Regions from separate parts of the Homo sapiens genome. Here region 1 is linked to region 2. The links come from fine-mapping of genetic effects on gene expression. A gene starts in region 2. The other region holds a variant in brackets. All regions are shown on one strand. Distances are from middle to middle. Region 1 overlaps TTC34 (tetratricopeptide repeat domain 34). Region 2 holds the start of TNFRSF14-AS1 (TNFRSF14 antisense RNA 1).

Region 1 (5,359 bases), 240 kb after region 2:
TTTTGGAATTTCTATATACATAGCTAATCATATTGCCTGGAATAATTATAACTTTGTGACTTCCTTTCTGGTCTTACATGTTCTGTCTTGTTTTCTTACCTTATTGCATTGGCTAGGATCTCTAGCACAATGATGAGTAACTGGGAGAGTGCACAGCCTCCTCGTAATTGATTTTAAATGGAAGGCTTCTGAATTGTCACCATTGAGTATGATATTTATGGTGGGTTTGGGATAGATATTATCTTTTTCAATTAAGTAAGTTTTCTTCTGTTTCTTGATTGTTAAAATTCTGGGAATGTGAAATATTATAAAACAGTTTTTCTGAATCTACTGCAATGATAATATGTTCTTTATTCCATTAATTATTAATGTAGTGAATTATATAATTCTGGAAACATAAAATTTTAAGTTCTATATTATAATATTTGACGAAATGTTGGCTAAAATGCATCAAAACTGATGTTTTGACCTGGTCAGCAGTTATTTCAGCTAACTATTCCTGCATAACCATCCACTGTAAAACTTAGTGGCTTAAAACAACAATCAAGCCTGGGCAACGTGGTGAGACCCCATCTCTACAAAAAAAAAAAAAAATTAGCCAGTTGTGATGGTGTGTACCTATAGTCCCAGCTACTTGGGAGGCTGAGGCAGGAGGACTGCTTGAGCCTGGGAGATTGAGTGCAGTGAGCCATGATCACACAACTGCACTCCAGCCTGGGAGACAGAGCAAGACCCTGTCTCAAAAAGGAAAATCCAACCATTTATATTTGCCCATAATTATTCCTCAGTTTGGGCTGGCCTAAGCTGGACAGTTCTTCTGTTGGTCTTACCAGGGGTCACTCAGGTGGCTGCAGCCATCCAGTGGCTTTACCGGACAAGAGACTCTAAGGTGGCCTCACTCATGTGTCCGGGGCCTTGGTGATGGCTGTCAGCTGAGCCTCTGTCTGTGTGTTCTCTCACTGGTCATGATTCCAGCTTCCTTACATGGCCCTGGGAGAATTCCAAGGTGAAGGTGGAAGCCGTGGGGCCTCTGAGGCTTGGGCTCCTGAAGCACAAGCCATCACTTCTACCATATTCTACTGGTCCCAGCAAGGCACAAGGCCATGCCAGATTCTGTACGGAGAACAGACCCTGCATCTTGCTGGGAGGAAAGCAGGAATCACAGCTATGCTTTGTCACCTTTCCTAGCGCTCTTAATGAAGAACCTTAAACAAATTGGAAGTGGTCATCCCAGTCCTTTGGTAAGACAAACACGTAGGGAGCCATGGTACCTGGATGCTTACTTAGCAGCTACCTTGAGGGAAAGTGGTATTTATTCTGTATCTTGTCCTCATACATCGTGTATCGCTGCATGTCTACTTACTAAAGAGGGCAAAGAAAGTTCCCAGATTATAGAAGGGTTTTGCTACAGTTTGAATGTTTGTTCCCTCCAAAACTCATGCTGAAACTTAACTGCCATTGTAATGGTATTGACAGGTCAGATCTTTGAAGATGATTAGGCCATGAGGGCTCTGCTCTTGTGGGTGGGATTAATGCAAGTTCAGCCCCTTTCGCCTCTTTGCTCTTCTGTCTTGTGCCAAGTGAGGATGCAGCATTCAAGGCGCCATCTTGGAATCCGAATCCCCAAGCCTGTTGGGGCCTTGGTTTTGGGCTTCCAGCGTCCAGAACTGGAGCTCATTCATTTCTACTCATTATGGATCACCCAGCCCGTGGCATTCTGTCACAGCAGCACAAATGGAGCGACTGGTTTGTGCAATGTTTCCAAGGACTTTGGAAAGTAACCTCCAGATGGAAGGTCATTTGTTGCAGGAAACTGCATCTGTAAAAAGTCTGTTATAGGAAAATTCATTTCTTCTCTTCTCATCGTAAGCCATGCTTGTGCTGGTGCTGGCGATGTGGGGAGTCCCTTGACCGAAGTGACTTGGGTCTAATGGATGCACAATTCTTAGGGCAGGTGTTCCCTGTACACACCAGAGCCACGGCAGACACAGACGAGCTTCCGGTGGCCTTCCTGGAGGAGCTGGGTCTTCCCTCACATTCCCCAAGCCTGCAACACTTGGGGGGTTCTGGATTTCTGCAGAGAGCTTTAGTGTGACCCCCACCCACACCCTTAAGTCATGCCCTGCCCCTGCGTGATCATTAAAGTGGAAGGCCCCCTCCCTCCTGGAGCCCCCTTGCTGTGGGCATGGTCCTCACCAGCCCCTGAGTGCCTGTGCTCTGGGCACCCGGGGTCCCCTCCTTCCTCAGAAGCTCACGATTCGGTGTGACTTTGTTGATCATTTTCTGGTAATGCTCAACATATTTGAGCATATTTCCAGAAACAAATTTTCCTGCTCACTTTGCAGCTCTCTCTAACTGGTTCCTGCCCCACCCTCTCGTTGGGGTCACCAAGAACCTCGGCACCACACGCCCAACGCACACTCCTTGTCCTCTCCTTACGGACATTGTGGCCACTCTCAGGGCTGCCTACCTGTCTTTATCTTGCAAACCCCCTTCTCTTCTGGCCCTGATCCGTCACCCCACGGGCTCCGAATTTTCTTCCTTCTTCCTGTCCTCCTGGGCTGCTCCTCCCCAGAAGCACAGTATGGAGGGCGGTTAGGAGCACCCCAGGGGCCAGGTCCTAGCTGCCTGCACTCCGTATGCCCTTGGCAGCCCCGTGTCTCATGGGGATGGTGGCTGCTCTGCAGATTCCATGATTATGCACATCAAACCCATCAAATGGGGCCCACCCACTAGCTGTTCAGTAAACGGCAGCTAATACTGCCATCCTCACCTCCAGATGTCTGCTGGCCTGGGATGGGGGCTGGGGCACGAGGAAAGGGCAGGGAGCCGCAGTGCCTTGCAGGACACTCACGCCAGGGAGGTCCTGTCTGCTCCAGGATGCCTCGTGGCCCCACTTCCTGCCTCTGTCGGGAGCCTTGACTTTCAACCTCTCATTTGCACTGACCCTAAACCCCCCTTTTTCAAACTGAGCTCCTCTCACCTCAGGGCTCACCTGTCTGGCTGCCTAATGACATGAGGCTTGATGGGCTCAAAGGACTGTGTGTAAAGCACTCAGTAGGTGACATTATTCTAAGGGTTTGC[T/C]GTGCATGTTTACTGAATCCACACAGCAGCCTTTGGGGTGGAGACGCAGCCTCGTCTCAGGCACTCAGGGATCCGAGGGTGGCAGAGTGCTGGCAGTAGGCTGGGCTGTGGCCCTGGGTGCTCCTCCAGAAGGAAGAGGCAGTGAAGGGACCGGGCAGGAGCAGTGTCTCAAACTGGGGGCGTCTAAACCTCTGACACCCCTTTTCCCATCCGCGCTTCCCTCCACAGTTCAGTTGCTCATCATGAACTCAGAAAACGTTCCTGACCCTCCTTCTCTGTGCCTGTCTCTCCACCATTAAATCTACCCACAATCTCGTCACTTCTAACTCTCAGACATGTGGTTTCTCTGCAACCCTTTCTCCCTGATCTGAATTCCATCAACTCTCTCCTGAACCATTGTCCCAGCCTCCCAGTCTCTCAGCTGCCCAGCATCCAAGCCTCCCAGTCTCTCAGCCTCCCAGCCTCCCAGCCTCTCAGCCTCTTAGCCCCTCAGCTCCCCAGCCTCCAAGCCTCTGAGCCCCTCAGCTCCCCAGCCCCCCAGCCTCCCAGCCTCTCAGCCTCTTAGCCCCTCAGCTCCCCAGTACCCCCAGCCTCCCAGCCTCTCAGCCCCTCAGCTCCCCAGCCCCCCAGCCTCCCAGCCTCCCAGCCTCTCAGCCCCTCAGCTCCCCGGCCCCCCAGCCTCCCAGCCTCCTAGCCTCTCAGCCCCTCAGCTCCCCAGCCCCCCAGCCTCCCAGCCTCTCAGCCTCTTAGCCCCTTAGCTCCCCAGCCCCCCAGCCTCCCAGCCTCCCAGCCTCTCAGCCCCTCAGCTCCCCAGCCTCCTAGCCTCCCAGCCTCTCAGCCTCTCATCCCCTCAGCTCCCCAGCCCCCCAGCCTCCCAGCCTCTCAGCCTCTTAGCCCCTTAGCTCCCCAGCCTCTCAGCCTCCAAACCTCCCAACCTCTCAGCCTCTTAGCCCCTCAGCTCCCCAGCCTCCCAGCCTCCCAGCCCCTCAGCTCCCCAGCCCCCCAGCCTCCCAGCCTCTCAGCCTCTTAGCCCCTCAGCTCCCCAGCCACCCAGCCTCCCAGGCTCCCAGCCTCCCAGCCTCTCAGCCCCTCAGCTCCCCAGCCCCCCAGCGTCCCAGCCTCTCAGCCTCTCAGCCCCTCAGCCCCCCAGCCTCCCAGCCTCCCAGCCTCTCAGCCTCCAAGCCTCCCAGCCCCCCAGCCTCCCAGCCTCTCAGCCTTCAAGCCTCCCAGCCCACCAGCCTCCCAGCCTCTCAGCCTCCAAGCCTCCCAGCCTCTCAGCCTCCAAGCCTCCCAGCCCCCCAGCCTCCCAGCCTCTCAGCCTCCAAGCCTCGCAGCCCCCCAGCCTCCCAGCCTCTCAGCCTCCAAGCCTGCCAGCCTCCCAGCCTCTCAGCCTCCAAGCCTCCCAGCCTCCCAGCCTCTCAGCCTCCAAGCCTCCCAGCCCCCTAGCCTCCCAGCCTCCCAGCCTCTCAGCCTCCAAGCCTCCCAGCCCCCTAGCCTCCCAGACTTCCAGCCTCTCAGCCTCCCGGCCTCCCGGCCTCCCAGCCTCCCAGCCTCCTAGCCTCCCGGCCCCCCAGCCTCCCAGCCTCCCAGCAGGTCTTGTCCTTACTCTGGTTCCTCTGGCACATTTTGCACATGGCAGCCAGAGGAAAGTTTAAAAATGCAGATCAGGCGCCGGGCGCGGTGGTTCACTCCTGTAATCCCAGCACTTTGGGAGGCTGAGGCAGGTGGATCACTTGAGGTTAGGAATTTGAGACCAGCCTGGCCAACATGATGAAACTCCATCTCTACTAAAAATACAAAAATTAGCCAGGCATGATGGTGGGTGCCTGTAATCCCAGTTACTCGGGAGGCTGAAGCAAGAGAATCTCTTGAACCCAGTGGGTGGAGGTTGCGGTGAGCCGAGATCGCCCCATTGCACTCCAGCCTGGGCAACAAGAATGAAACTCCATCTCAAAAAAAAAAATGCAGCTCAGAGTACCTCACTCCACAGCTCAGCCTCACAGACTGAGGGTAACATCCAAGGGCCTTGGGAGGCCAGGAGGATCTAGCCCCACAGCTGCCATCTTCAGTCTCCCATTCGTTTTCCCCTTCCCTCCGACAGTCGCCCTGGCCCCCTCAGTGGCAGGGGGAGCCCAAGCTCTTGCTCCCCTAAGGACTTGGCACATTTGCTTCTGCTGCCTGGAACCCTCACTCTCAGCCTAAATGATTCCTCTCCTGAGAAGCTTTCCCTGATCACCGGCTGGAGCAGTACCTTGCCCATCCCATTTCTTAAAGC
Region 2 (5,291 bases):
ACTGGCACAGCATTGGGTCTGGGGAGTCCCCGCGACAGGAGGCGTGGGGCTCGGGGTGCTCACCTGCCTCCCTCTCCCTGCTGGTAATGGTGGGCCCCGGGATGGGGGCAGTGATATCCTGCGGGCAGCCGTGTCAATGCAGATGGCTGGGTGCTGGGTAGGGCCCCGTCTCCCGCCTCCTTGGGCTGCCTCATTTCCTTCCTGATGACCCTGGGGTCCTGCACAGGGCCTGGCGGTGCTGGTGCCGGGAGAGCCCACGCTGAATGGATGAAGGAGTGAGTGCTGTACTTAGCGGGGGGCGCTGAGCGCTGGGTGGGGAGCCCAGGACATTTCCTCCTGCTGCCCGGGAGGTAACACCCTGGACCCCTGGAGTCTGCATTCTGTGAGAGCGGGCAGGCCACAGAGAAGGGAGAAAAGGGACGGAGGGCCGAGGCGGGCGGATACGGGGAGCAGGGAGCGGGGACAGGGCTTACTCAGCAATCAGAGAAGGCCTCAAGGAAGAGGTGACATTTCAGCAAAGACCTGGCACTGTCTGTGCCCTCGGTGGGGCAGATGGGCTCCCTTCAGCCCCCTTGAGGCCTGGCACCTGGGGCCCTATGTCAGGCTTGGGGCCTTGGTGTGGGAGCTGAAGTCGGGGTAGGAGGGGCATGGAGGAAGGGGCAGGAGGGGCTGAGTCTCACTGATGCCTGTGTTAGTCTTGTCTCTTGCCATGCCTCAGTTTCCCTCCTCCCCAGGGTGGGGTGGATGAGACGACTCTGGAGGACGTATCTGAGAGAGTGGGGTTGGAGCCCCGTACCGGCAGGTGTAGGCGCTGTGTCTGCTCTTGGAGGTTGGGCGTTCTTGGGGAGTTGGTGAGGGAACGTGCTGTCCCTGCACCCTGGAGCCCCCATGCCCTCCTGGGGCCCCCGGGAGTGGAGGATGCAAGGGGCCCCCTTCTTCTTCCTTGCAAGACCCACATGGCTCTGCATGTGGGGGACATTCCTGGCAGGGGGCGCTGAGGGCCAGGATGTGAGTGCACCAGGGAAACAGCAGATGGGGCTCCTCTCCCAGGCTCCAGCTGTGGGGTGGGAGTCCATGCTCCTGCGTGTCTCTTGGGGGCTTTTCCTCCACTGGGTGCCACCTGGTCCCCCACCCTGCCTCAGAGTATTGGGGTCTGGGCTCGTCCACCCTGGATGCTGGCCAGGAGTGCACCTGCCTCTGGAGCTCGGGACGCTTGGCCCCACAGGACGGTGTCGCACACCACAGCCGGCCTAACTTCACCCCTGCCTGCTCCCTCTCCAGGGCCGGCCTGCAGGGCTGCACACTTTCTAGTTGGGGTGCAGGTCCCCGGGCTCCTGCCACAGATTCCTGTGGCTGGCCACCCTGCCAACTCTCCTGCAGGTGAGGGTGGGCGCAATCCCCAAGGTCCTTTCCACCAGATGCCACTGAGTCCCCCAGGGGCCAGGGCTGGACCCTGGAGGGGGTCACCTGGCTGAAGTCAGGACCAGGAGGGGCAGGGGGCAGTCGAGGGGCAGGGGGCGGTCCTGGGCCAGGCGTCTGGCAGATGGGCTTGCTGGAGGTGGGGGTTCCTGGTGTGCAGCAGGCGGTGCCAGAGGGGGTGACTGGGACCTGCTCTGGGCAAGCACAGGCGGTGCGTGACAGACCTGGGCTTCCATTGACTGCATCACGTCCAGCAGCAGGAAGGGGCCACGGGGGCACTGGCGTCGTCACGTGGGTCACGAGGTTCCATGTGATGCAGGGAGCGAGGCCGTCACGAGGGACTCACTGGTGCCTGCCTTGGGGCTCCGGGACTGTGGGCTGTCTCCATCCGGAGGTCTCCCTACCACCAGGCTCTGTGGGGCAGGGAAGCCCAGTGGGGTGCAGGGAGCCAGGAAGCTGGGGTGGGGTCAGGGCAGGGTCCACAGGGAGACCGGGCGAGGCTGGCAGCCTTCCCAGTCCGCGCAGCGTCTCTGCAGGGGGAGCAAGAGCTGCCCTTCCACCCCTCCCAGGGGACGGGTAGGGGCACTCTGGGCTTTTCCCACCCCCTCACGCAGGGACACAGGCCTGGTGGGTCTATGACTGAAATTGGCCAGACCGCATTCTGGTGGTTTTATTCGGAAGGGAAGTTTACCCTGTTCAGCAGAAGCTGAGATGGGAACAGGAAACCCACAGGGCCCCTTTATTCGGCAAAAATGTCAGTCAGCGCCCCGGGGAGCAGCCGAGGGTCCCTGAGTGTGTGAGTGAGGTGGGGAAACACAGATGGACTTTGGGGGGCTCCCCCTTCTACAGGAAACCCGGAGTGGACTGGAATGGTGCAGGGGGAGAACTCGCCCCTCCCATCGGGCGCCTCCTTCATACCGGCCCTTCCCCTCGGCTTTGCCTGGACAGCTCCTGCCTCCCGCAGGGCCCACCTGTGTCCCCCAGCGCCGCTCCACCCAGCAGGCCTGAGCCCCTCTCTGCTGCCAGACACCCCCTGCTGCCCACTCTCCTGCTGCTCGGGTTCTGAGGCACAGCTTGTCACACCGAGGCGGATTCTCTTTCTCTTTCTCTTTCTCTTCTGGCCCACAGCCGCAGCAATGGCGCTGAGTTCCTCTGCTGGAGTTCATCCTGCTAGCTGGGTTCCCGAGCTGCCGGTCTGAGCCTGAGGCATGGAGCCTCCTGGAGACTGGGGGCCTCCTCCCTGGAGATCCACCCCCAAAACCGACGTCTTGAGGCTGGTGAGCCCCCGAGCCTCCTCTCCGTCTGCTCGCAGATCCCAGTTCTGACCCCAGGGCCTCCCACAGATCTCTTCCCCATGCCCCTGTCCTGGCCGTTGCTGGCTCCGGCGTCCAGCCCGTCCCCTGCTGCCTGGGGCTCTCGGGTCAACCCAGACCCCCAGCACTGGGCTCACCACAGTGGGGTGAGCAGCAGAGCCACAGCCCTACCCAGCAGACCTCCTCCTGCGTGTGTCCCCCACTCACCACTCCGTCCACGGGCAGCTGGTGAGCCCCCATTTGGCCGGATGTGGGCACTTCTGGGGGCTGGGTGTCTCTGGGCGTCTCTGGGCGGGGCCCTCGAGCAGGTGACCCAACTCCCCGGCAGCCCTGACCTTGGTGACAGGTGATAAGATCAGTGTGCAGCAGGGGGCTGGACCCAGGTGGGTGGGGTGGGGATACTCTCCATGCTCATGTGGCACTCCTGCCTGTCCAGCCACTATCCCCATCAGGGGCCCCCGACTGCCCATCAGCCAGCCCAGGAACGAGGCCACGGCAGAGCCACCCTCCCCGATGTGGCCCTGATCAGCCTGTCACCCACTGTCTGGCTTGTGAGCCTCTGGGGCCCATCCCTGGCTGCCCCTGCTGGCTCTTCAGGGGTCAGCAGGTCCAACCTAGGCCAGCAGGGGGGCCGGCAGGTTGTCTGCCCAGTGGGCTCAATGCTCCCAGGTGTGGGGTGTGGGGTCCCTGGCGAGGGCAGAGTTCCAGTTCCCAGGGCTCCGCGCTGCCAGGCAGCGTCATCAGGGCTGGAGGAGGGGCGGTCCCCACCCTATCCCGGGCTCCAGCGGTCGGCAAGGTTGTTCCATGAGCCTGGCCTGGGGCCCGCTTCTGTCCTCTCTACCAGGCACTGCCGCTCCTCCCCATTGCACAGAGGGAGATTCAGGCTGTGGGGCCAAGCCTGGCAGAGCCCACAGGGCAGCCAGGGCATCTCCCAATGCCTGTCCTGACCCCCTTAGGTGCTGTATCTCACCTTCCTGGGAGCCCCCTGCTACGCCCCAGCTCTGCCGTCCTGCAAGGAGGACGAGTACCCAGTGGGCTCCGAGTGCTGCCCCAAGTGCAGTCCAGGTAGGTGCAGCCCTTTGGCGGGCCAGCTCTGTGGGCCGAGGGCAGACACTCTTGCCCCCTTCTGCCCCAGACACCCCTGTGTTCTCTGCCCCCACAGCCATGGGTGTGATGAAGCCCTGGGGCTAGGTGTGCAGACAGTGAGGGCAGAACCCCCAGGCCAGCAGCTTGGACTCTTCACCCTGGGGGACCCTCACAGTCACACTGCACAGGGGGTGGGTCTGAGAGACGTGGCTGGCCCACCGTGGCCAGAGACATGGGCTCGGGGGCACATACCAGAGCCGGGCCAGGTGTCCCAGGAGGCCCCATGTGCTTCCAGAACTTTCCGATTTTCCCCAGAGCAGCTCTGCTCATGGCTGATGGGGCTGCTGTGTCCCGTGGGGCTCATGGGCCATTTGAGTCCCCTTAGCTGGTGTCTCCCTGCTTGGGCTCTGGGCGCGGGTGGAGTGATGGGTGGGCTCCCGAAGGGGCCTCCCGCAGACTTGCGAAGTTCCCACTCTCTGGGCGGCAGGTTATCGTGTGAAGGAGGCCTGCGGGGAGCTGACGGGCACAGTGTGTGAACCCTGCCCTCCAGGCACCTACATTGCCCACCTCAATGGCCTAAGCAAGTGTCTGCAGTGCCAAATGTGTGACCCAGGTAAGAGGCCAGCACAGCCGGCCCAGCCTCCGCTTGGGCAGCCTGGATGCCCCCGCACCCTGCACCCTCTCTCCATGGCCACAGTGCCCCAGGAAGGCCCCGGCTGCCCCAGGCCAGGTCCCAACCCCATCTCCATGGATGCACCCTGCAGGGGACGCCTTGAGGTCAGCCTCCGGCCCCCGTCCACCTCTGTCTCACCTCTCACTTTGTCACCGCCAGGTGGGCCATCCTGAGCTTGGCGACTGACCCTTATCCCTCGTCCTTGGCTCCTCTGGTGCCCGGGGTGGGTGCCCAGACCTCTCCTGTGCCCACGTCCCTAGCTGCAAAGTGGAATGGGATGGTGCTGGGACTCTCCGGCCGGCACTCGGGCCTGCTGCTTCCCCACAGGGCTTCTTGTCCCTTTCTCCTCCAGATATTGGTTCCCCCTGTGACCTCAGGGGAAGAGGTCACCTGGAGGCTGGTGCCCACCTGAGTCCAGGCAGACAGAAAGGGGAACCAGACCCAGAGGTGGCCTTTGAGTCACTGAGCGCAGAGCCTGTCCATGCGGCCAACGGCTCTGTCCCCTTGGAGCCTCATGCCAGGCTCAGCATGGCCAGTGCTCCCTGCGGCCAGGCAGGACTGCACCTGCGGGACAGGGCTGACGGCACACCTGGGGGCAGGGCCTGAGCCTACAGGGAGGCACAGGGCAGGTGGGCTAGCCATGAACAGAAGAGGAAGCTGGAGTGCTTTGGGGGTTCATGCATGTAGGCTGGGATTTGGGGCTCACACCTCAACCTGCATGCCCAGTTCCATGCCCCTCCCCTCTTGTGAAAGCACCTGTCTACTTGGGCTGAGGATGTGGGGGCACAGGTGGCAGGTGA

The links. PIP is the estimated chance that this variant, and not a neighbour inherited with it, causes the effect.
Region 1: its variant is the best candidate, but not a certain one, in a credible set for the expression of TNFRSF14-AS1 in whole blood (INTERVAL, PIP 0.67).

The regions. Positions count from the first base shown.
Region 1 is chr1:2,794,508-2,799,866 of GRCh38, forward strand. The region is part of intron 2 of TTC34 (tetratricopeptide repeat domain 34); the gene reads right to left. Among named protein-coding and RNA genes, the nearest start is that of TTC34, 4.5 kb to the right of the region's middle. The variant T/C (reference allele first, on the strand shown) is at 3,085.
Region 2 is chr1:2,554,038-2,559,328 of GRCh38, forward strand. It overlaps TNFRSF14-AS1 (TNFRSF14 antisense RNA 1), which reads right to left and starts at 2,974. Exons shown (of 7, transcript NR_037844.2): 1 at 2,940-2,974; 2 at 687-2,659; 3 at 64-259. It overlaps TNFRSF14 (TNF receptor superfamily member 14), which reads left to right and starts at 2,334. Exons shown (of 8, transcript NM_003820.4): 1 at 2,334-2,696; 2 at 3,689-3,797; 3 at 4,306-4,431. The coding sequence starts at 2,628.